Homo sapiens: one gene and its partners. The protein of the gene in region 1 purifies or fractionates together with the protein of each later gene. This does not show direct contact. Each region holds a gene or a part of one and is shown in the gene's direction. Other genes may lie near its edges. The genes, in order: GMPS, GLO1, LGALS9, PAK2, CTPS1, AKR7A3 and PSMD5.

Evidence for each region.
Region 2: the proteins of GMPS (region 1) and GLO1 fractionate together in Homo sapiens (co-fractionation; one large-scale study listed by BioGRID). This does not show direct contact.
Region 3: the proteins of GMPS (region 1) and LGALS9 purify together in Homo sapiens (co-immunoprecipitation; one large-scale study listed by IntAct). This does not show direct contact.
Region 4: the proteins of GMPS (region 1) and PAK2 fractionate together in Homo sapiens (co-fractionation; one large-scale study listed by BioGRID). This does not show direct contact.
Region 5: the proteins of GMPS (region 1) and CTPS1 fractionate together in Homo sapiens (co-fractionation; one large-scale study listed by BioGRID). This does not show direct contact.
Region 6: the proteins of GMPS (region 1) and AKR7A3 purify together in Homo sapiens (co-immunoprecipitation; one large-scale study listed by IntAct). This does not show direct contact.
Region 7: the proteins of GMPS (region 1) and PSMD5 fractionate together in Homo sapiens (co-fractionation; one large-scale study listed by BioGRID). This does not show direct contact.

Annotation. Positions count from the first base shown.
Region 1 is NC_000003.12:155,933,150-155,936,649, forward strand, and holds part of GMPS (GMP synthase [glutamine-hydrolyzing]), read left to right. Parts: intron 1-1,766; coding exon 1,767-1,897; intron 1,898-3,188; coding exon 3,189-3,361; intron 3,362-3,500. UniProt on the Homo sapiens protein: Catalyzes the conversion of xanthine monophosphate (XMP) to GMP in the presence of glutamine and ATP through an adenyl-XMP intermediate.
Region 2 is NC_000006.12:38,686,146-38,689,645, reverse strand, and holds part of GLO1 (lactoylglutathione lyase), read left to right. Parts: intron 1-2,671; coding exon 2,672-2,754; intron 2,755-3,500. UniProt on the Homo sapiens protein: Catalyzes the conversion of hemimercaptal, formed from methylglyoxal and glutathione, to S-lactoylglutathione. Involved in the regulation of TNF-induced transcriptional activity of NF-kappa-B. Required for normal osteoclastogenesis.
Region 3 is NC_000017.11:27,637,688-27,641,187, forward strand, and holds part of LGALS9 (galectin-9), read left to right. Parts: intron 1-575; coding exon 576-667; intron 668-2,884; coding exon 2,885-3,086; intron 3,087-3,500. UniProt on the Homo sapiens protein: Binds galactosides. Has high affinity for the Forssman pentasaccharide. Ligand for HAVCR2/TIM3. Binding to HAVCR2 induces T-helper type 1 lymphocyte (Th1) death.
Region 4 is NC_000003.12:196,742,857-196,746,356, forward strand, and holds part of PAK2 (serine/threonine-protein kinase PAK 2), read left to right. Parts: intron 1-3,500. UniProt on the Homo sapiens protein: Serine/threonine protein kinase that plays a role in a variety of different signaling pathways including cytoskeleton regulation, cell motility, cell cycle progression, apoptosis or proliferation.
Region 5 is NC_000001.11:40,993,196-40,996,695, forward strand, and holds part of CTPS1 (CTP synthase 1), read left to right. Parts: intron 1-2,721; coding exon 2,722-2,873; intron 2,874-3,500. UniProt on the Homo sapiens protein: This enzyme is involved in the de novo synthesis of CTP, a precursor of DNA, RNA and phospholipids. Catalyzes the ATP-dependent amination of UTP to CTP with either L-glutamine or ammonia as a source of nitrogen.
Region 6 is NC_000001.11:19,282,073-19,285,770, reverse strand, and holds the end of AKR7A3 (aldo-keto reductase family 7 member A3), read left to right. Parts: intron 1-656; coding exon 657-753; intron 754-985; coding exon 986-1,085; intron 1,086-1,645; coding exon 1,646-1,775; intron 1,776-2,878; coding exon 2,879-3,040; 3' UTR 3,041-3,198; downstream 3,199-3,698. UniProt on the Homo sapiens protein: Catalyzes the NADPH-dependent reduction of various carbonyl-containing compounds, including aldehydes, ketones, and toxic products from cellular metabolism or environmental exposure.
Region 7 is NC_000009.12:120,832,923-120,836,422, reverse strand, and holds part of PSMD5 (26S proteasome non-ATPase regulatory subunit 5), read left to right. Parts: intron 1-2,966; coding exon 2,967-3,111; intron 3,112-3,500. UniProt on the Homo sapiens protein: Acts as a chaperone during the assembly of the 26S proteasome, specifically of the base subcomplex of the PA700/19S regulatory complex (RC).

The DNA of each region.
Region 1 (3,500 bases):
CCACTGCACTCAAGCCTGGGCGACAGAGCGAGACTTCATCTCAAAAAAAGGAAAAAGAAAAAAAAAAGAATCTTGGTGAACTTTAGATTTATTTGCTGGGGTCTTTTTGATGAATTGGAGTTTAAAAATATTCTTCCCTGTTTGCCGGTTTTTTTCCTAATTTGGATAAGGGAATCTTTGTACAGGGAGGGACTGTTCCAGTTTTACTGTCATATATAGTGTGGGTAAATACCTGTCCCAGTACACTCTAGTGATTACTTTTGTTTGTAAGAAATGAGAAGGTGAAAAGAGCAGGTTCATGGCATTCTCTTAACTTTCTCCTGTAAAGATCTTTTATGAACTTTAGGAACTGTATTGTTTAGAAAAATTATAACTTACTGTCTATACGTGGGACAAAAACCTTGCTTCTGTTGTAGTATGTTTGGAAGGAGACAATAAAGTAGTTGGTGATACCGGTGGTTTTGTGCTAATATGGTTTTCTATTGTGTATTTTACCTAAGTACATATTAAGAAAAGAAGAAAAAACATTAAACTTTACCATGATAGTTTCCGGGGAGATTTATTTTCTTTGCTAAAAACAGGACTAACGAAAAGTGAATAGGGAGAACTAGCTAAGTGGCACTCATATCTCTACCCTGATTCCCTCTTGTTTTCTGGGTGAAGATTGTGAAACAGATCCCTTCAAACCAGTGGCCAGCTACACTTCAAGTTGTTAAAATTGTCTGATTCTAATTTCCTCAAGTTATGTTCCAAACTGTACTCTCATTAACTCAAGATATTTGTGGTGTATCTTCATGTCTTTCAAACAGACATTTATATAAAACACTAATGAATCATTTTTTTGGAAGGAAGTAGTAGGATACTAAGTCCTATTTCAATGGCCTTTTTAATGAAGTGCAAATGAGAATCTCTCTAGAATGATTGTTTCTCAAGTAGAGAAAAAAAGATGAGTTTACTAATTTTGGGAAATTCACTGTAGTTTCCTCTTGGAGATTTCCAGTGCATGTTAGCATAGTATATTAATAGTTTCTGAAGTCTTGTCATAAAGACACCTATTTTTAAATTTTAATTGTGTATTTGTTTCCTAGGACTACCCATAACAAATCACCACAAACTAGGAGGCTTAAAACAACAGACATTTATTCTCTCACAGTTTAGGAGGCCAGAAGTCTGAATTCAGTGTTGGCAGGGTCATATTCTCTCTGAAGACTCTAGGGGAGGATCCTTCCTTGCTTCTTCCTACTATCGAGTGGTGGCAGCATAGTCCAGTCTGTCTTTGTGTTCACATGACCCTCATTCCCCTGTGGGTATCTGTGTATCCAAATTTCCCAGCACTTGGAAGGATACCAGTCATTGGATTAGAGCCCATCCTAATCCAGTATTACTTCATTTTAACTTGATTACATTTGCAAAGACCCTTTTTCTCCCCAGAGATTCTGGGTGGGCATGAAGTTTTGGGGATACTCTTCGACCCAGTACATTAAGTGAAAAGAGAGTTGTAATAATCACTTATATCTTTGCACATTCTGAGATACAGAATATTCCAGAGAACACACTTTGAGGAAAACACGTAGAACACAGACCTTCCTATAATCTTATATCTTGTCCTATCCATCTGGGGAGTTGAAGTGGGCAGGAGAAGGGCCTGAAACTAAGTGGGAAATGGAAAGAATGTTACTGTTCTAAGTGCCTTGCTTCTCATACTAAAATGTAATTTCTACATTTGAAATGTAATTGCTGTATTATTTTTACCTCTTTGTTTCCAGAGTTGTTTATATATTTGGCCCACCAGTTAAAGAACCTCCTACAGATGTTACTCCCACTTTCTTGACAACAGGGGTGCTCAGTACTTTACGCCAAGCTGATTTTGAGGCCCATAACATTCTCAGGGAGTCTGGTAAGTTGCTCATGTTTTTGATTACTACCCTCTGAAACTAGTTTTTGGAAGCTTGATATTAAGAGTAGGAGGATGTGGCTTTTGCTTTTTAGATGCTTTTGTTTTTATTATTTAAATCTTTGAATGTTCTATGATGTTGCTTTTTTTTCTTGAGACGGAGTCTGTCTTGCTCTGTCGCCCAGGCTGGAGTGCAGTGGCACAATCTTGGTTCACTTCAGCCTCTGCCTCCTGTTACAAGTGATTCTCCTGCCTCAGCCTCCCGAGTAGCTGGGATTACAGGCACCCGCCACCACACCTGGCTAGTTTTTTGTATTTTTAGTAGAGATAGGGTTTTGCCATTTTGGCCAGCTGATCTCGAACTCCTAACCTCATGTGATCAGGTCAGGAGTCAGGTCAGGCCAGCCTTGGCCTCCCAGAGTGTTGGGATTACAGGCGTGAGCCACTGCACCTGGCCTATAATGTTGCTTCTAAATAAAATATATTCCCCTTTGTGGCCATTTGTGGACATGCACAGAGCAGCAGAAAATTTGAATTTCCAGACTTAGATGTTCCCAGCTGAGTTTGAACAAGGTGACGCTATGCCTTCTTGTTTTCAGCTCTCATAATGTGAACAAGTCTTTTTCATGGTCTCCTTGATGCTATATCTTTTGCATTTTTATGTCTTTTGTTGGTGATTTTGCTGTTTAAAATGGATCTCAACTATAGTGTTGAAGTGCTGTCTGGGTTCCTAAGCACAGGAATGCTGTGATGTACCTTACAGAGAAAATCTGTGTGTTAGATAAACTTCATTCAGGCATGAGTTAAAGAGCTACTGATTGTCAGTTCAGTGTTAATGAATCTATAATAAATATTAAATACAGTGTCTTAAATCAGAAACACATAAAACAAGGTTATATATTAATCAGTTGATGAAAATATTACAACCAGAGGCTTGCAGGAACCTAACCCTCCATTTCCCCTGGGAGAAATGGTTCAGTATTCGCTAATTCGTTGTTTGCAGTGTAGAATATAACTATACTGCAAATTATAATAGAGAATAATGAGACTGGACTGTTTCTGTTTACAGCACATCAGTGAAACATCACTGATGTGATCAAATTCTGTTTTTTGCATTTGTGATTAAGTCCATTTAAAATGCTCTGCGAGTAGCTGAAATCAATGCATGATGACAGTCTTAACTACGCTGTGTGTGTATATGTGATTTCAGATATTGCCTGGGAGGATTTAATTGAACTGAGTTAGAGTGCTTTTCTATGGTGTGGTGATTGGTTCTACATATACCTTTCTCTAGGGTATGCTGGGAAAATCAGCCAGATGCCGGTGATTTTGACACCATTACATTTTGATCGGGACCCACTTCAAAAGCAGCCTTCATGCCAGAGATCTGTGGTTATTCGAACCTTTATTACTAGTGACTTCATGACTGGTATACCTGCAACACCTGGCAATGAGATCCCTGTAGAGGTAATTTATATATTTTTTTCTAATGCACGTTCTCAGTACCTCTTACATTTTATAATATGGTGAATGGAATAGGCTATGCCAGTGCTGTATTTCTTATGTTGGTTTTCTGTTCATAAGATAGGCTTTTTTTTTTAAATTT
Region 2 (3,500 bases), on another chromosome or scaffold:
GACTCTTGATATTCCAGTTGTTTTCCAGAAAGATTGTAAGATAAGGATATGATAGACTATGGGATAGAATAGTTAAGGTTGTCTAACTTTGGCAAGTACTTGGCATGGCATCTACAACAAAAAATACATGCTGTGCCTAAGATATATGGATTTGAGTATAGCCTGTATAGTGTGAACAGAAGTAATGATAAAGTCGTTGGTAAAGTACCAATACTAATGTTGGTACTAGAAAGATGTTGAAGAAACAAAACATAAACAGGGTCACTACAAAGCAGATTTTAAAAGATAGTTTTTAGATTTTATCCTTTTTTAAAAAAACTGAGCAACAAATAATGTTGGGTGCAGCTTGGTTGGAAATATATTATCTCATAATTCCATAGGCTAGAGGTCCGACTTGGGTCTGTCCCACTGTATTGACAGGACTGTGTTCCTTACTCAGAGGCTCTGGGGAAGAATCTGCATCTAAATCCATTTAGATTGTTCCCTGAATTCAGTTTCTTTCCACTGTCGGACAGGGGTCCCAGCTTCCTTGCTGGCTGTCAGGCGTGGATGGGTATGGTGGGGTGGGAGCAGAGGGCAGCTGCCTTTAACTCCTGGCACATGTGCCCCATGTCTCAGAGCCAGCACCTGCAGGTTGGCCCCTTCTCACACTTGGAATCTGTCCCACTTCCCTTTATGCCACACTCCTCTTCTACTTTCTTTGCGCGCGCACGCTCGCTCTCTCTCTCTCCTGCTTTTAAGGTCTTGTGTGATTACATTGAATCCACCTCAGTAATCCAGGCTAATCCCATTTTAAAGTCCACTGATGAGTGACCTTAATTTCCTCTCAGAGTCTCTCACAGCAGCACCTAGGTTAGTGTTTGAGAGAATAAGGAAGGACATCTTTAGAATTTAGTCCTTGCTTGCACCTCCCTCCAGGGACTGCAGTGCTCCCTCCTGAGACTGAGAACCAGTGCTGGGAGGACAGATCTCCCCCATGAGGCCTGCCAGCTAAAGTCTGTGTGATTGTGTGTGGTCGGGCCTGACAGATCATACATAAGACTTTGTCCTGCAGGTGGCTTCCTCAAGCAAACATTGTAATCAATAGAGAAGCAGCTACCACTCATATTAGCTGGGAAAGAAGGATGTTTGTTATTTTGGTAGTGTTCATAGTGCCTTGTTTTAATGTATACTTAGACCGGAATATGAAGTGGACATGGTCTTGCTGCTTTAAATTTTTTTTTTTTATTTTGGTATCACATCATGGCAGCCACAGAGTGACTTTATATATGTTCAACAGGAGAAAACCAAGGCCCAGCTGTGAGTACCAGGCCAGCACTTGGATGTGCAGAGCTACTTTTCTCTTTCTCAGCTGCTTGATAAAATCGAGACCTTTAGGACTGTAGCATCTGACTGAGAAAAGCAACCCAAATGTTCTAGAAACATGTAACCTGCCTGGCATGTGATTATAAGCTGCGAATAAAGAATTTAATTATTATATTTATTAAGATCAGTTTTAATAAGATAAAGTAGTTTTTAGGCTAGTTTTGTTTTAAATGAGAATTTTAATGCCTAAAAGAGTATGTTTCATTTACTTAAAATTTAGCAAAAGAGAAAAATATAATTTCCTAATGAGGCTGAATGAACTATATTTGTATTTTATATGATGTGAGTTATATAGGAGAAAGATGGCATGTGGCTCCAAAGTAAGTGGTCAGAATTTTCAGGCCTGTTTTGTCAAGCCATGGGTTTAACAGAAAAAAAAAAAAAATCTGTTAGGAAGCACCAGTGAGGTTCACAGACTTATGGTCTGGAAGGTACATACCAATGGTAAAGGGAGACCAAAACTTAGAGGCCTTAAACAGTTAATTACTCAGTGTCAGCTTCTCATCTACAACATGGGGTATGAATATCGACAGTAATACCATATAGAGTTATTACACCTAGTTAAGTCCTAAGTAGAATTATTAATGCTATTAATAATCTTAACTCCATGAATTTACATACCTTCTACCCTTTTCTCAGTCAAGCCTTCTGTTTCCTGATAAGTAAGTTGAATTTCCCAAAGGTGTTAGCAACAGTAACTTTTTACCCTTTTAGTTATTTAGGAGTCTAGGATCTTGTGAGTAACTCTTTGCTAATTTGCGTGGTCACCAGTAAATGGTTCTAGAAGGGCATTTATGCCTTCATTCAACAAATATTGTAGTGATCAACCTCTTTATGTGTAAAATCAGTGTCTTAGTTTGGGTAGCCCCAAAGCAGACTAGAGAGAATGGTGTGGTTTTAAGTTTTTGAGAAGTGGTCACAGAGAGCTCTGCAGAGTTAGGGAGAGAGGGTGATCATAGGTGTATACGAGTGGATTACCACTGTGGGCAACTGAGGTTCAATCCTGCTGGGGATTCTTTGAGGGACTTTGTGGTACCTGCCTCTGAATTGTCCCACCAAGGGACAGGGATGCCAGGTTTTTTATCGACCATTGGTTGAAGGTCATTCCTGCAGTGGAAACTTTCTGACACTTTGGACTTGCATCACACAGGGGCCTGCAACCAGAAGATACCACTGAGCAGAGAGCCCTTGCAAGTTGTAGGTGGTAGGTTAACAATTGTGTTTGTATCTTGTTACAGAAAGCACAATTAATGTTGGTAATAAATGGTAAAAGTGAAAGATGTTTAATATAAATATTTTTCCATAGGATTTTCTATTGCAGCAGACCATGCTACGAGTGAAGGATCCTAAGAAGTCACTGGATTTTTATACTAGAGTTCTTGGAATGACGTAAGTCAAGTACTTATTGGCACCTTAATGTTTAAATATATAGCTTTGCAAATCTAGAGAGTGTTTTCAGACCCATCTTAAAGTTTGTTTCAGAAGTAACAGAAGTTCTTTTGGCCAGGAGTCTGTGATTAGGCCTGGCTGGACAGGGCTTCTCTCGTAAGTTCTTTTTCTTCTCTATCCCAGCCAGCCTGAAAGGGCAAAACAAGACACAAATAGTTGCATTTTCTCCAGTCTGCCTTCTCTGAGCGCTCCCAGCTAAATCCTTAATGTGTTCAGACCCCTTTTGATGTTCTGGCCACTTTTAGCCTCTTGTTTACTTCAGAAAAGTTATAGATAATAAGAACTTACTACTCAGAAAACCAATGGGTTTACTTAAAACTGACCATCTGTTCTATTTTTCTAGGCTGTGTTTTCTTTTGCTCAACAGGTCATATCCACTGATCTTGCAATCCTAAAGCATACTTATTTTTCTAAAGCATGTTTATTTTTCTTTTTTTCTCCAGCTTTACTGAGGTATATTGAGAAATAATTTTGTCATATTGTTGATTTGTTTCCCTAAGTTATGTGAGCATTTTGCTTTTGAGCATATAGATACATGAATAATAAAATAATCTTTAAATTTAGTGCCTAGATAACTTCCATTCACATTGAGAGAAAAATTTAAGTAATATATGTCTATATTTAGAAAATTTGACCAGTTCAGAAAAATACAAAATGAAAAGTAATAGCTTCCCTCCCCAAGTTCT
Region 3 (3,500 bases), on another chromosome or scaffold:
AAGGTCACAGTGGCCATTGTTATATGGTGGTGGTGGGGAGAGGGGGATGGCTTCTTCTTAACCTCCTCGGGTGAGTCGAAGGTTTACCCTCCAGACCCTTGATGGGTCCCTTTGGTCCCTTGGGCTTCCTGAGTCTCCAGCCAGGGCCTGGGACCTTTGCTGGGAGCTTAGCATGGGGTCCAGCAGCCCCCATTGCTACCTAATTCCTTAGCAGCCCAGGGTGTCTGCCTGCTACTTCCCTGCCTGGAAGGAAGGCCTTCTGCCTGGTGCATTCCTGCTGCAGCCTCCACTGCCTCTTAGACTCTCACACAAGCTCAGCTCCCTGTCGCGTCCTCTCAGGGCCAGGCTTCTCCTTATCACAAGCTTAGACTGTCTGAGTAACTAATTGGATTTGTGTTTGCCTCCACACAGGACCCTAAGACCCGTGGGGCTGCGACTCCCTCTGTACTGGTCACAGCCGCACCCTATCCCCTTGCATGGGGCTGTCAAACCCAGGCTGGCCACTGACTAGCGCTGGAGGGGAGCAAACGGGAGGCCGGCCACCTGACTGATGTTCCCACACCTTCTCCCTGCAGGCTGTCCCCTTTTCTGGGACTATTCAAGGAGGTCTCCAGGACGGACTTCAGATCACTGTCAATGGGACCGTTCTCAGCTCCAGTGGAACCAGGTGTGTGTGTATATGGATGGAAACGTTTCACTCCAGCCTCGTCCCTTAGTAAACCACTGTGCCTGTGAGCCTGGGTTAGTTCAAACAGCAACATCCAAGCTCACGTGCCTGGCTCAGGGGAGGCCCAATGCGTCCCTAACCCATGCCACAGGGCAGCACTCCACAGGCACAACCTGCACCCAGGGGTGCCATTAACCTGGACTCCAGGATGAATGGGGCCCTGGGAGCTGACGGTCTAAGGAGGGCGTGGGATGGTCAGAGTTGGATGATTATGTTCTGGGTTGAACCTTGCACACTGTGACTAAGAGTTGCAAAAATCAAACTTCCTCCATTTCCCGTAACTGCTCTCATCCACTCTGAAGCTCTCCTTCTGCTGATGTGAAAATATTGAAAATTGCCATCAAAAGTAATTTGGTCTCTTTTGGTTTCAAGGCCTTTTCTAGAAACTACTAAGTCAATTCAACATACTAACATTGTATCAGGGCTGTTTCCCACCCCCTCCTCCCTCCCAAGGTGGGCTGTCTGGGAACAGAGAAGAGCTCACATGGCTTCTCAGTGGCTGGGAGGGCTCTAGACCCTCACTCAGGCCTGGCTGACCCCTGCCGAGGCACCCCGACCGGGTGGCACAGAGGTGTGCAGCTCTCTCCTGGTTTAGTGGGGGACCATGGGTGGCTGCCTGCTGAACTCTGCGGGGCCCACAGAAGAGCCTCTGGACTCATGACTCTCTCTCGGAAGCCTCTCTGCCTCAGTCCCAGGGGACCTCTCCTTAAGACCTTCTGGGCCTCACAGATCCCAGCTAAACCTCAGCTTGGACACCTAGATTCTTGGTGACCTCCTCCGCCATTGCCATCCTGCTGTGGGACTTCTCTGAGAGACTGCGGTGCCCTCAGGAGATGCCAAGGGCAGGGAGGCCCCGATCTCCCTGAACCCTCCAACCAGGGGAATCAGGACCATGACCCTGATCTTCCGCCCCTTCCTCTCTCCCTCTCCCTCCACCTCCCCCACCCCCCAGCACCAGGAGGGCTTCCCACTCCCATCCTGTCATATAGAGACAGATCCTACCTCAGAGGGCCCTCTCCTCTTGGGAGCTTTCTGTCTCTCCCTTCCTTGGGGCAGGAATTTCGAAAGGACTACAGGGATGAAGCTGAAGGACTCCAAAGGAAAAAATACATGCAGATATATTTCAAATGCAATCTTCTCCATTTATTCATTTAATTAATTAATTTTTTTCTTTTGAGACAGGGACTTTCTTTCACCCAGCCTGGAGTTCAGTGGTATGATCATAGCTCACTGCAGCCTCAAATTCCTGGGCTTGAGTGATCCTCCCATCTCAGCCTCCGGAGCAGCTGGGACTACAGGAGTGCACTATGATGCCCAGCTAATTATTATTATTATTATTTTGAGATGGAGTCTCGCTCTGCCACCAGGCTGGAGTGCTGTGGCGCTATCTGGGCTCACTACAACCTCCGCCTCCTGGGTTCAAGTGATTCTCCTGCCTCAGCCTCCTGAGTAGCTGGGACTACAGGCTCATGCCACCATGCCTGGCTCATTTTTTGTATTTTTAGTCGAGACGGGGTTTTACCATGTTGGCCAGGATGGTCTCGAACTCCAGACCTCGTGATCCACATGCCTCAGCCTCCCAAAGTGCTGGGATTACAGGCGTGAGCCATCATGCCCAGCCAATTTTTTTTTTTTTAACTAGAGATGAGCTCTCACTATGTTGCCCAGGCTGGTCTCAAACTCCTGGGCTCAAGTGGTCCACCCGCCTTGGCCTCTGCGCCCAGCCCCAATTTCACATGCTCTTTACATTTGTTCTCTTCTTTCCCATTTAATCAGGCATGTGCTGGCCTCCAACAAGTGTCCACTGGCACAGAAGGCTCTCTCTTCTAGGTGTGCTTAACAACTTCCATCTTCGGTATCAATTGGTAATCACTTTCCAAGACCTATGTTTCTTGTTTGCTAATACCAGCACTTTTCCTTAACCGTTTTCTATTTGCTTTTAGCAAATCATGCTGTAAAGGCAAAATCCAATAATTAAAACAAAAACACATTAGATCCCAATTAGAAAAACAAAAACGATGCCAACAAAGCAGTCTCTGCCATACAGGTTGTGTGCAAGATCCAGACAAATGCAAAGCACAGGCGCCGAGGCCCTCCTGTGCCTGTCACTGGCAATAATCCATGCCACAGAAGACTATTTGCTTTCCCTGGGCCTAGGTTTGCTGTGAACTTTCAGACTGGCTTCAGTGGAAATGACATTGCCTTCCACTTCAACCCTCGGTTTGAAGATGGAGGGTACGTGGTGTGCAACACGAGGCAGAACGGAAGCTGGGGGCCCGAGGAGAGGAAGACACACATGCCTTTCCAGAAGGGGATGCCCTTTGACCTCTGCTTCCTGGTGCAGAGCTCAGATTTCAAGGTGAGCAAGAATCCCCTCCCCACCTCTCACCCCTGGGACCCCCAGCCCTATCAGGTGAATGGCCTTTAAGTAATCACCTAAATTGACATTCAGCCAGAGTGACACCACTATACAGATAACACGCTCATTTCCTTGTGAGGTGTTACCCATGGCTGCCTAGTCTCCTTATGCACCTTCATCTGAATCTACAGGTGCACCTGCTGCTTCTTTTACTCTGAAAATAAGAACTAGAGGAGTCATCACGTTGCTATTTGGTGTTGTGTGTCTTTGAATTCCAAGCTCATTCCATTCCTCTGCTATAGCCATTCCTCCTCTCCAGGTCACTGGTAACATTTATTTTTCAGCGACATCGTTCCAGCCTTTATCCAGGGTCTATTAAGGGTATAGTTTTGTAAGCACATTGCAAATTACCCT
Region 4 (3,500 bases), about 41 Mb from region 1:
TTGCAGTGAGTCGAGATCGCGCCACTGCACTCCCGCCTGGGCTACAGAGCGAGACTCCGTCTCATTAAAAAAGAAAAAGAAAAAGAAACTGGGTCAACTTCAAGACTTTAAGTCGTAAAGGTTTCCATCAGTTTGGTATAAGAGTTGAGTTTCCAGACTAATCAGAGGGAGGGTGTTAATTGCAAATTGTGTGTCCAAGCTCTTCCTAGTATCCTTTTTGTGCCTTAACAGAGCAGAATAGGAAAGGAAAAAAATCCCTCATTGCCCCCAAAAAATAAAATACTGGTTGTTTTCTTCTGTGATCAGAGTTGAGTTTCATCACTTCTTCCCTTCTAGGGTCACCTGCCTGGTTAAGGGTAGTCAGTCTGAACATTCATTCAGGATTTCAGTGTTCCAGCCTACTATCTCTGAGTTTCTTTAGTACTTACTCCATGTATCCCATGTGGTTAGGAGCTAGAGTCCTGCGTTTGAATTCTTGCTGTTCTACTTTACCCTGGGCAAGATATACATTCTTTTCAAGACTTGCTTTTCTCACCTGTAAGATGGGGATAATAATAATAATACCAATTTCACAGGGATATTTAGATCAAATGAGGGAATGCAGGTAAAGGATTCTGTAATTATAGGTCTTAATAAACGTTAGTTAATAGTCTGTTCTTACATGCTGTAGAGTCGATACTCCTAAACTTAGAATTAAAACTGCCTTCTAGGCCGGGTGCGGTGGCTCACACCTGTAATCACAACACATTAGGAGGCTGAGGTGGGCCGATCACTTGAGGTCAGGAGTTCAAGACCAGCCTGGCCAACATGGTGAAACCTATATTCTCTACTATTCTTTAGTAGAGAATTTAGTATTCTCTACTAAAAATAAAAATATTAGCTGGGCGTGGTGGCGGGCGCCTGTAATCCCAGCTACTCAGGAGGCTGAGGCAGGAGAACTGCTTGAACCCAGGAGGCAGAGGCTGCAGTGAGCTGAGATTGCGCCACTGCACTTCAGCCTGGGTGACAGAGTGAGACTCCGTCTCAAAAACAAACAAACAAACAAACAAAAAACTGCCTTCTAAAAGAACGAAGTTTCTGAGACCGTAACTAAAAATAAAAATTACTTTTGGATGAATAAAATGTAATTTTTCAGGAGAAAAAATATGTAATAGTTTCACCACTGAAATAAAACATAGGGTTTTTGAACACAAATTTCTCAGATTTAAAAATATGCATATTTCCTGTATAAAAGTTGAAAAGTGGGCAGTGGCTGGTGGTGCCTGTAGTCCTAGCTACTTGGGAGGCTGAGGATCCTTTGAGTCCAGGAATTTGAGGTCAGCCAGGACAATACAGGGGGACCCCATCTCTTAAATCAGACAAAAATAAAAGTAGAAAAAAATATTAAATAAGAAATTTGGAAAGTGGTAAAAACTTTTAAGACAAAATTACCTTAGTCTCAGCTGGCAGAACCATTGTAACAAACTGGAACAGTGGTTTTGTTCCTTATTTTAAATTTAAATTCTAAAAGCAGTACATATTTATTATAAAAGGTTCAAACAAGTCAATTAAATATTTAAAGAGTGAAAATTCTTTGGGAGACTGAGGCAGGAGGATCACCTGAGCTCAAGAGTTGGAGGTATAGTGAGCTATGATTGCACCATTGCATTCCAGCCTGGGTGACAGAGCAAGACCCTGTCTTATAAAATTCTTAAAAAGTGAAAATTACTTTCTCTTTTTAGTCCCATTCCTTAGAAGTACCTACCCGCTGTTAATAGTTTTACTTACTGAGTTAGAAATAAGTAGTACCTTTTGTGTGTCGGATACTTTTTATGTTGATTTTAAAATAAAAAATCTGATCATTAAGTATTGTTTTCCATATCATGACATATAGTGGCACCTCTACTTTTTAAGTCATTAGATATTATGCTGTATGGTAGTACTTTAATTATTTGTGATCATTTATGTTATTTCTAACTTTGAGCAACTAAAACTAGAGCCTTAATGAACTTATACGTATGTCTTTGTGCACATGCATATGTAGATAAGTATTTCCATTAAAACGACTTGTAAGTGTGCATTTAAATTTCTTTTTTCTTTTTTTTTTGAATTGCATTCCAAAAAGACTTGTAATGTATATTTCCTTATTGAGTTGTAGAAGCTCTTCACATGTAATAGATATTAATCTATTGCCTTCTGTTTAAGATCTTCCTCATTCCACCTTTACAAAAAACATTCTTATGTGTTTTCTTCTGGTACTTTTAATAATTATTGTGTTTCAATCTTTTTTTTTTTTTTGTGACAGAGTCTCACTCTGTCACTCAGGCTGGAGTGCAGTGTTGGATCTCAGCTCACTGCAACTTCCGCCTCCCGGGTTCAAGTGATTCCCCTGCCTCAGCCTCCCGAGTAGCTGGGATTACAGGCACCATACCATCGCACCCAACTGATTTTTTTTTTTTTTTTTTTTTTGTAGAGACGGGGTTTTGCTATGTTGGCCAGGCTGGTCTCAAACTCCTGACCTCAGGTGATCTGCCTGCCTTGGCTTCCCGAAGTGTTGGGATTACAGGCGTGAGCCACCGTGCCCAGCCCATTGTGTTTCAATCTTAATCTTTCTGGAATTTTTTCATGCCTGGTGGGGATAAAAGAGTTTTAAAATAGTTTTGCTACAGAAATAAAATACAGGTATAAAAATATTTGGCCGGGTGCAGTGGCTTACGCCTGTAATCCCAGCACTTTGGGAGGCCTAGGTGGGTGGATCACCTGATGTCAGCAGTTGGAAACAGCCTAACCAACGTGGTGAAACCTTGTGTCTACTGAAAACACAAAAAATTAGCTGGGTGTGGTGGTGCACACCTGTAGTTCCAGCTACTCCGGAGGCTGAGGCAGGAGAATTGTCTGAGCCCGGGAGGCGGAGGTTGCAATGACCTGAGATCAAGCCACTGCACTCCAGCCTGGGCAACAGAACGAGACTCCATCTCTAAGTAAAAAAAAAAAAAGAAGAAGTAGTAACTAGATTTTTCTGTTCATTGGTATTTTTATTATCTTACTGGACTTCAGTAAACGTCTTTATTTTGTTTTCCAGGTTCATTGTTTTATCTGAGAATAATAGTAACTTCAGTCACTTTTCTATGGTTACAATATTTAACCTTTTTTTTTTTTCTTTTTCTTTCTTTTTTAAAGACGGGGTTTCACCGTATTAGCCAGGATGGTCTCGATCTCCTGACCTCGTGATCCGCCTGCCTCAGCCTCCCAAAGTGTTGGACAGGCATGAGCCACCGTGCCCAGCCCTTAACCCTGTTTTAGGTCTTTATTACATTGGCCTGAAGTTCCAAGACTTGGTTAAACAAGAGACGTGTCGTTGTCTTGAAATGACTCTGGTATTAATATTTTTACAGTTAGGGATGATGGCAGCTGTTGGATTTAGAGAAAGATTATTATTTTATTCTGTTTCTGCTTTACAAAAAATAGGAATGGCTTCTGAATTTTATGAGATGCTATTGTAACATTTAGATGATGATATG
Region 5 (3,500 bases), on another chromosome or scaffold:
ACCTGCCACGATGCCGAGCTAATTTTTGTATTTTTAGTAGAAATGGTGTTTTGCCATGCGGGCCAAGTTGGTCTGGAACTCCTGACCTCAGGTGAGCCACCCGTCTTGGCCTCCCAAAGTGCTAGGATTACAGGTGTGAGCTACCACGCCTGGCCTTGCCTTTTTTTTTTAAGAGACAAGGTCTTGCTGTGTCACCCTGACTAGAGTGCAGTGGTGCTGTCACAGCTCACTGCAGCCTGGGCTTAAACAGCCCTCCTGCCTCAGCCTCCTGAGTAGCTAGTACCTTAGGCGGACGCTACCATGTTCAGCTGTTTTATTTTTTGTAGAGATGAGGTCTTGCTATGGTTGCCCAGGCTGGTCTTGAACTCTTTGGGCTCAGGCAGTCTTCTTGCTTCAGTCTTCCAAAATGTTGAGATTACAGGCGTGAGCCGGCAATGCCCAGCCTTACTTACTCTTTTAATTGGAATGTTTATCTTACTGAGTTGACTTGATATAGTCTGAATACAAGTCTTTCATCAGGTATGTGATTTTCACATATTTTCTCCCTATCTGTGCCTTGTCTTTTCATTTTCTTCTCTCTTTTTTTTTTTTTTTTTTTTTTGAGATGGAGTCTTGATCTGTTGCTCAGACTGTAGTGCAGTGGCATGATCTTGGCTCACTGCCATCTCTGTCTCCCGTGTTCAAGCGATTCTCCTGCCTCAGCCTCCTGAGTAGCTGGGGCTACAGGCATGCACCACCACACCTGGCTAATTTTTGTATTTTTAGTAGAGACGGGGTTTTGCCAAGTTGGCCAGGCTGGTTGCGAACTCCTGACCTCAGGTGATCTGCCTGCCTCGGCCTCCCAAAGTGCTGGGATTACAGGTGTGAGCCACCGCACCTGGCCTTCATTTTCTTAATAGTGTCTTTTAGAGCACAGACACTTTTAAATTTCGATGAAGTCCAATCTGTTTTTTTCTTTTATGGATTGTGCTTTCACTGTCGTGTCTAAGAACTCCTTGCTCTTAACCAAGGTCATGAAGATTTTCTTGTAAAAGTTAGTTTTAGGTCTTACATGATCCATTCTAGGTTAACTTTTGTGTGTAGTGTGAGGTAAGGGTTGAAATTTTTACATGTGGATATCTACTTGCCTCAGCCCCATTTGTTGAAAAGACTATCCTTGGATACTATTCTGTACTTTTTAAAAATAAAGGTACATTATAGATTTACTAATCTTCATAAAGTTGTTTAGACTTATTTATAGCTATTCATAATTTTTATTACTACCGTGTATTTTTAAAAATTATATTTTCTGATTAGATAATACCCCATGTGTAGGAGACCCTGCTGACCTCTGTCCATTCATCTACAGCCTAGCAACCTTACTAAAATTCTATTAGTACTGATTGTTTACCTGTAAATTCTTTTGGTTTTTATGGATAAGCAGTGATATTGTATGCATTATTCAGTGGCAACCGCTTCTTGTTTTCTGGTTCATTTTTTTTTCTTATCTAATGATAATGGCTAATATCTTCAGTACATCATTGAATAGAAGTACTGAAAGTGGCCATTCTGGCCTTGTTCTGGACTTTAAATAGTAAACATTAATATTAAACCATGTGATGTTTACTGTGGGTTTTTTATATTGCCAAATTTTCCCTAATCTTAATTTACCAATAATTTTTATTATGAATTTGGTTTTGAATTTTTATCAAGTCTACATCTACTGAGGGAATTGTTTTCCTCCTTAATCTGTTTTCTATTTATGTGGTGAATTCCACTGTTAAATTTCCTAACACAGTAGTTCTCAAACTTGACTGCACACTGGAATCACTTGGGGAGCTTTAAAAATACTGATGCCTGCCTCCTACCCCACAAGATCCTAATTCAAGTGGTCTGGGGTGCAGCATGGGCTTTTGACCTTTTATAAGCTCTGAATGATTCCAATATGCAGCTGAGTTTGAGAACCACTGTTCCTAGTTAAGCCATTCATAGGTTCGTGGACATGATTTTTTTAAAGCTACATTTGTGATTTGGATCATGAATTATTATTATTATTATTTTTAAGACAGGTTCTGGCTCTGTTGCCCAGGCTGGAGTACAGTGATGCGATCTTGGCTCACTGCAACCTCCAACTCCCAGGCTCAAGTGATCCTCCCACCTCAGCCTCCCGAGTAGCTGGGACCATGGGCACATGCCACCACACCCAGCTAATTTTTTGGGTGTTTTTTTTTTTTTTTGAGACAGAGTCTCACTCTGTCACCCAGACTGGAGTGCAGTGGCACAATCTCAGCTCACTACAGCTTCAAGCTCCCAGGCTCAAGTGATTCTCCCACCTCAGCTACCCCCCAGTTAGCTGAGACTACATGCACATGCCCACCATGCCTGGCTAAATTTTGTATTTTTTTGTAGAGACAGTGTTTTACCATATTGCCCAGTCTGGTCTTGAACTCCTGAGCTCGAGCAATCCTCCTGCCATGGCCTCCCAAAGTACTAGGATTATAAGCATAAGCCACCTTGCCCAGCCATGAATTTTTTTTAAAGGACTTTTGCATCCATGTTCATAATAGATTGGCCACTAATTTTCTATTCTATTCTTGAGTCTGTTTTAGTAGTTTATCTAGAAAATTGTCCTTTTTTCTGTTTTCAAATACATAATATTTTTACAAGGTCACGTAGCTAGTAGGAGGCTGTAAGCCTGGTGAGTTTTTGCTTTTATTTAATAACTTGCTTTTTTCTAAACAGGTGATCTGTGTCCACGATGTCTCATCCATCTACCGAGTCCCCTTGTTGTTAGAGGAGCAAGGGGTTGTAGATTATTTTCTTCGAAGACTTGACCTTCCTATTGAGAGGCAGCCAAGAAAAATGCTGATGAAATGGAAAGAGATGGCTGACAGGTTTGCCTGCAATGAGGAGCTGGGAGTGCTAGCCTCCTTTACTCTTTTGTAGGGCTGGTGAAGCCGACTCTAGCCCTAGCACTTTTGTACTTTTGCACTTCTGCCATCCACTCATTAGAAGAGCCTTTGTAGTAAGAGATGTTCAGAAAGGATCTTAGCTGTCACGTAGCTGTGGCACAGATGAGGAGATCCTGATAGGGCCAGGCCAGGTGCCGGGCCTCCAGACAATGAGTTCGGGTTATGTCTTAACACGCTTGTCTCTTACCAACTAGATCAGTGCAGATGGGCGTCCTGGTGGCAGCGGGTGAGTGTGCATATCCAAAGCCCACACGAATGGCTGACAGTGGCTGGAGCACTCCTGGGTACCACTCCAGAGTTCTGAGCTGTGTTTGGGAATGTGTCTCACCCCACACCAGAAAGGGATCACATTAGGACGGGGATGTGTTGCTGCCTACTCCACTACATCCTTTTAAGGCTCGGTGATGCTGTCACATTCCTTCAGAAATCTTCACTTCGTGTCTTAGAGCAATGGGCAGGCCTTATCTTAGTTGCAAGATCAATATGATGGCCTAGAAGCATTTGGAGAGGGCATACTCATTCCGTTGCTCTGTGAGAATCATTTTTCAT
Region 6 (3,698 bases), on another chromosome or scaffold:
CCTGCAGATGGCTCCCAGGTACCCTCAGGATGCCATTCAAGCTCCTCAGGCTGGCCACTGGGCATCTGCTTCCTTCCTGCCTATCTGTGCACCTTGGACCCTTCCTTCCCTACCTTCCCCTGCACTCAGCCTGGAACAAGCCCTTCCCCCACCACCGCCCCTTCCGTGAGAGAATGGTTCAGGTCTCACATACGTGTCTCTTCCTCTGGAAGCCTTTCTAGATGGGCCCAGAAGACCCTGAGACCTCAGGTCCTTGTTTACCTCCTCATGATTCATTGCACAAATATTTGCACACCTGCTTGGTGCCAGGCACTGGTCACAGAACTTTCTAGTCTATTATGATTGCCTCATGACTTGATTATAACTGTTTATACTTGACCTTATTATAAAACCTTGAGGGAAGGGACCCTGTCCTTTTGGCTTAAGAATCTAAATCTGACAACCAGCCCATAGTTGGTGCTCATGAAAGTTGGCAGAATGAATGAATTTTCCATGGGCATAAGCTTCTTTCACCAGCACCAGTTAGAATAAGTATACGCCCAGACGGTTAAAGTCCTAGAATTGTTAAGGTCTGAAATAAGGGTTCTGGAAGGGTAATTTTGAAGTCTCTTCTTTTGACACATCCACCCTCTCCCCCGGGGCCCCTCTCCTTACAGGGCATGTACAATGCCATCACCCGGCAGGTGGAAACGGAGCTCTTCCCCTGCCTCAGGCACTTTGGACTGAGGTTCTATGCCTTCAACCCTCTGGCTGGTACGTGGAGCATTCCTGGCCCTGTCTCAGCCTATTCCCGACCCACAGATGCCCAGCCCAGGACCTGGGAAGCAAGGAGGGTTTGACAAACTTTGACCTCTGAGGTCAAAGACGTAAAGGCTGCATCTTCAGCCCTCCTGGGTCCCTGCCCCTCCCCTAGACCAGAGCCCTGAGGGATGTGGCAGCTTCTGGGGCACTCTAGGCCCCGGGGCTGATTGCTGCTTTCCCTCAGGGGGCCTGCTGACCGGCAAGTACAAGTATGAGGACAAGAATGGGAAACAGCCCGTGGGCCGCTTCTTTGGGAATACCTGGGCAGAGATGTACAGGAATCGGTAAGCTGTGGGTGCTTGGTGTGGATGGCTGGGGTGGGGTCAGCTTTATGTGGAATGAAGTCCTGGGCTGCTCCTGGGGTAAGGCCTTTCCTCGCTGCTGCACCTACTCCCCTGAATTTCTTCGGGAATTTCCAAACCCTCCATCGGTTTTCTTGTTGTCTTGGGACCTCCAGGAGGAAAGGAGACTCCCTGGACCTCGGGGTCTTGAAGTCGTTGCTCTTTCCTGAGCAATCACCTGCTAGGAAGGAAAGAAGGAGCTCTGGAGGGAGGTCCAGGAGGCCTGGGGCTGAGTCCTGACCCATCTTAGCGGCCTTTGTGTCCCTAAGGAAAATAAGAGCAGGCTGATGAGTCCTCAGGAATAAAGATTTGTTGAGGTCTCTGCTGAGGGGCCCAGCATCCTGAGTGGTTCTCTTGCCCAGCAAAGTGGGAGACCCATGGCTAGAGAGAACACCTGCCCCTCAGGGCTGCAGGGTGTGGGGTGGGACAGTGGCCCTGGTTGGCTCTTTGGTTGTGGCTCCCAATGTGGCCCTGACACCTGTGCCACCGTCCCCCCTTCCCAGCTACTGGAAGGAGCACCACTTTGAGGGCATTGCCCTGGTGGAGAAGGCCCTGCAGGCCGCGTATGGCGCCAGCGCCCCCAGCATGACCTCGGCCACCCTCCGGTGGATGTACCACCACTCACAGCTGCAGGTAACCAGTGACCCTGTGCGCTCAGCTTCTTCCCTTCCAGGGGAACCAGCAATATCTTTAGATGAAGGCTGAAACATTTGTTTATCGATTCCTCTGAAATTTCTCTTTCTTTCAACTCTCACAAACATTCTTCCCACTGGTCTTTTTCTATGTTTTTTTTTTGGGGGGACAGAGTCTCACTCTGTCACCCAGGCTGGAGTGCAGTGGCATGATCTCGGGTCACTGCAACTTCTGCCTCTTGGGCCGAAGCAACTCTCTTGTCTCAGCCTCCCCAGTAGCTGGGATTACAGGCGTGCGCCACCATGCCCAGCTAATTGTTTGTATTTGTAGTAGAGACAGGGTTTCACCATGTTGCCCAGGCTGGTCTCAAATTCCTGAACTCAGACAATTCGCCCTCCTCAGCCTCTGAAAGTGCTGGGATTATAGGCGTGAGCCCCTGCGCTCGGCCTTCTCATTGGTCTTTGATGGTATCTGAGTGCCAGGCTTTGTAATGAGAGCTTCATTGCAGGGATTTCATTATTCCTTCAGCTTTATGAAATGACTATCCCAGTGTTATTGACGAGGAAACTGAGTTTCACCCAGCTATGAAAGGGGCAGACATTTTAACACAGGTTTAACTGTAAAGCCCACTAGTCTCATCCTTTTGGTGGGAGCTGGAGTTTCCCTCTCTCAGTGCCTCATGTCTTCCTCACTTATATCCAACTCCAGCCTTAGATGTTGCAATAGTGTCTGGCATATATACAGTAGGTGCTCAATAAATGGGAGCTAAGTGCTCTACATAATTTTTCACACCCATAACCATGTTGAAAATAGAAAAGAGGATTGAATCTCAGAGAGGTTTAATAACTTAGCCGCGTTTACACAGCTGCTGGGGGGCAGAACTGGGCTGTGAATGTAGGTCTGTCTGGAAGCGTCGTGTGGCAGTAGGGGAAGGGATACAGGTTTTGCGTCACATGGGTACAGCTATCCAAGGCACCTTAAGTTCTTTCTGGACATATGGGATACAAGAGATCCCAAATCTCAGCAGGGAGGTGGCTGGGACGGCTGTGAGTAGAGTCGCTGTGCAGCAGAAGAGGGTTGAAGTCTGGCCGTCTCCCTTGCAGGGTGCCCACGGGGACGCGGTCATCCTGGGCATGTCCAGCCTGGAGCAGCTGGAGCAGAACTTGGCAGCGGCAGAGGAAGGGCCCCTGGAGCCGGCTGTCGTGGACGCCTTTAATCAAGCCTGGCATTTGGTTACTCACGAATGTCCCAACTACTTCCGCTAGGCCCATCGTTTCTCAGGCTGCCCAAGGCTCTTCTGTAACATCTTTTGTTACTCACATTTTCTTTAATTTAGAACTGCCTCAGTAAATTCTTAGGGATGGAAGTATTTGGACAAAAACCTAATAGAAGAGTCACCACCAAATGAAGAATAAAACTCCCAGGGTGCTGTGTGTTAGTCTGTTTGCGTTGCTATAAAAGAATACCTGAGACTGGGTCATTTATAAAGAAAAGAGGTTTATTTGGCTCACCACTCTGCAGTCTGTACAAGGGGGTGTGGTGCCGGCATCTGCTCTTGGTGAGGGCCTCAGGAAGCTTACAGTCATGGCAGAGGGGGAAGCGGCGCCAGCGTGTCACATGGTGAGAGAGGGAGCAAGAGACAGACAGGGGAGGAAATTCCAGGCTCTTTTAAACAACCAGATCCTGTGTGAACTCATAGAGCTGGAACTCACTCATTACTATACAGATGGCACCAAGCCATTCATGTGGGATTTGCCCCCATACCCTAACCCCTCCCACCAGGCTCACCTCTAACATTGGGGATCACATTGCAACATGAGATTTGGAGGGGACAAAATACCCTGATGATATCATTGTACCAGTACCACCCCCCCGCAAATGTCATGTTCTTCTCACATTGCAAAGTACAGTCATCCCTTCCCA
Region 7 (3,500 bases), on another chromosome or scaffold:
TCCATCTCAAAAAAAAAAAAAAAAAGTACAGATGATAAATATGCACGTAGAAAGATATTCAACATTAAATAGGGAAATACAAATTAAAATTACAGTGAGATTCTACTGCACACTATTAGATTGGCTAAAATTTTAAAAGGCACAGAAGCAATGCAACCCACATGTGCAACCAAAGTGTCTATGAAGGGATGAATGGATAAACAAAATGGGGTATATACATATGATGGGATATTGTACATCTTGCCTCAAAAAGAAAGGAAATTCTGACAGATGAACTTTGAAGACGTTGTGCTAAATGAAATAAACCAGACACAAAAGGATAAATGTTGTATGCTTTTACTTACATACCTAGAGTAGTCAAATCTAGAGAGACAGAAAGTGGAATGGTGGTTGCCAGGTGCTTGGGGAGGGGAGAATAGGGAGTGTTCAATGGATGCAGAGTTTCTGGTTGGGAAGAGGAAAATGTTCTGGAGATGGACGATGGTGATGGCTGGACAACAAAGTGAATGTACTTATTCCCACAGAACTGTGCGTTTAAGAGTGGTTAAAATGGTAAATTTTACCTGTAATCACATTTTTTTTTTAAAAGGAAAAGAAAACCATACTTGTAAGTATCCTCATTCCTCCTCTTCCCCGTTCCTCCAGCCTCTGGCAACCAGGAATCTACTTTATTTTATTTTATTTTTTTTTTTTGAGACAGAGTTTCGTTCTTGTCGCCTAGGCTGGAGTGCGATGGCGCTATCTCGACTCACTGCAACTGCCGCCTCCTGGGTTCAAGCGATTCTCCTGCCTCAGCCTCCTGAAGTAGGTGGGATTACAGGCGCCCACTACCACACCCAGCTAATTTTTTTTGTATTTTTAGTTGAGATGGGGTTTCACCATGTTGGCCAGTCTGGTCTTGAACTCCTGACCTCAGGTGACCCACCTGCTATGGCCTCCCAAAGTGCTGGGATTACAGGCGTGAGTCACCGAGCCTAGCGGAATCTACTTTCTATATGGATTCGTCTATTCTGGACATTTCATATAAACAGAATCATTCTCAAAAGGAAGCCTTTTGTGTCTGGCTTATTTCACTTAGCATAATATTTTAAAGGTTTATTCATATTGTGATATGTATCATTACTTCATTGCTTTTTATGGCTGAATAATATTCATTATATGCACATAACACATGTTTATCCTTTCATCACTTGGTGGACATTTGGATTGTTTCCACTGCTGTGAACATTTGTGTACAAGTTTTGTGAAAATAGCATGTTTTCAATTATCTTTGGTATAAAAACATTCTTAATACTACCTTAGGTTCAATTATGCAAAGTGAAATTCCTGAATTAAAAGAGTATGTTCATTTTTAAGGCTTTTCATTTGTATCATGTAGTTACCTACCCAAAAGGTTGTATCAGTTGAATTGTGTACTACTACTAACAATATATTAGCCCATTTATTTGTAGTGTCTATTAAGAGACAAGAAAATTGTTCTGAAAACATCTTCTGTATCTACCACTGGTAGTCATCAGTTTCTCTTACATAGTTCTTCCCTCTTCTCTCTATCCTCACTGCTGCTCCCCTGGTTTACTCCTTCATCACCTCTCACCATTTACTGCCTTGTAATTGAAAATTCTTCCCCTAACACTGGTGCAGAGTGAATTCTATAAGTCAGATCTCGTCATTTTACTTCTTTAAGACCACTTATGGCCTGCCATTGATTTTCTGGAAGAAGTCTAAATTCCAAGCATGACATAAAATACCTGTTAGAATCTGGCTTCTGTGCATCTTTTCAGTTTCAGTTCTTGTCCTTCACCTCACCCTTTTACCTTCTCACCACCTCTCTCCCATTCTGACCCCAATCATACCAAACTACTTGTTCCTTGAAAGTATAATACTATGTCTTATTCCTCTCTGCCTTTTCATGTGCTGCTACTCCCTCTACCTAGAACACTTTTCTTCTGGATAACTCCTACTTTTTCTTAAAATTTAGTTTAGATGTTACCCTTCTGGGAAGCCTTCCCTGTACCCTCTGTTCTTTTTTAAGCTCCTATAGTTTCTAGTCTTAGCCCATAGCGTTTATTTATCTGGATTACAGTTGCCTTTTTTTTCTGTATCTTTCATTGTATTGAGCTCCTTAAGACTAGAGAATATATCGGGCCAGGCACGGTGTCTCACACCTGTAATCCCAGCACTTTGGGAGGCTGAGGTGGGAGAATCACAAGGTCAGGAGATCGAGATCATCATGGCTAACACAGTGAAACCCCCGTCTCTGCTAAAAATACAAAAAGTTAGCCGGGTGTGGTGGCATGCACCTGTAGTCCCAGCTACTCGGGAGGCTGAGGCAGGGGAATTGTTTGAACCCAGGAGGCGGAGGTTGCAGTGAGCAGAGATCGTGCCACTGTACTCCAGCCTGGGCAACAGAGCGAGACTCTGTCTCAAAAAAAAAAAAAAAAAAAAAAGGCCAGGTGCGGTGGCCCAAGCCTGTAATCCCAGCATTTTGGGAGGCCGAGGCAGGTGGATCACCTGAGGTCAGGAGTTCGAGACCAGCCTGGCCAACATGGTGAAACCTCGTCTCTAAAAATACAAAAATTATCCCAGCATGGTGGCAGGCCCCTGTAATCCCAGCTACTCGGGAGGCTGAGGCAGGAGAATTGCTTGAACCTGGGAGGTGGAGGTTGCAGTGAGCCAAGATCAGGCCATTGCACTCCAGCCTGGGCGACAGAGCAAAACTCCACCTCAAAAAAAAAAAAAAAAAAAAAAAAGAAGACTAGAGTGCATATCTTATTCTTCTCTGTTGCCCCAGCACAGGCAATGCGCATAATAGGTACTTAGCAAATGTTTAGTAGGTGAGTGAAAGCTGCTGTTTCAAAAAGAAGTCTGTGTGGAGGAGACGCTGACGCAAGCTTCAGCTATTATTAGGTTGTTACTTCCTACCTGGGCAGGATATGAACTAATAAGATTTATGATGTCTCCTTCAGGGAAAAGACTACTTTGTGTGTATCCATTCTGGAGAGATTGCTCCAAGCTATGGAACCGGTTCACGTGGCCCGGAACCTCAGGGTTGACCTGCAGAGGGGACTAATTCACCCTGATGATTCTGTAAAAATCCTCACTCTTTCCCAGGTATGAAATTCTACTAGGAACCGACATTGACCACCTGCTCTGGGCCAGGTTCTGCACTGGGACAGAAAGATGAAGAAAGCACAGTATTTCTCTCTCTCCTTCCCTCTTCCTTCTCCCCCTCTCCTCTGCTCCCTCTTTCCCCCTAGGAAATGTGTGGTCTATTCCAATGTGCATAGCTAACTATAACCTGGGAGATACAAGCTAAAGAAAGAAGTTCCATTAAGTACCATCTAAATCATTCATTAATCAGATACTGACTGAGTTCCTTTTACATGCCAGGCATGGTGCCATATGCTGTTAGAGTTACCAAGATAAACAAAACTGATTACTTTCCTTCAAGGAGCTCCTAGTGTAAAGAAAAAGATTCCTATGTGTTCAAATAGCTCTCT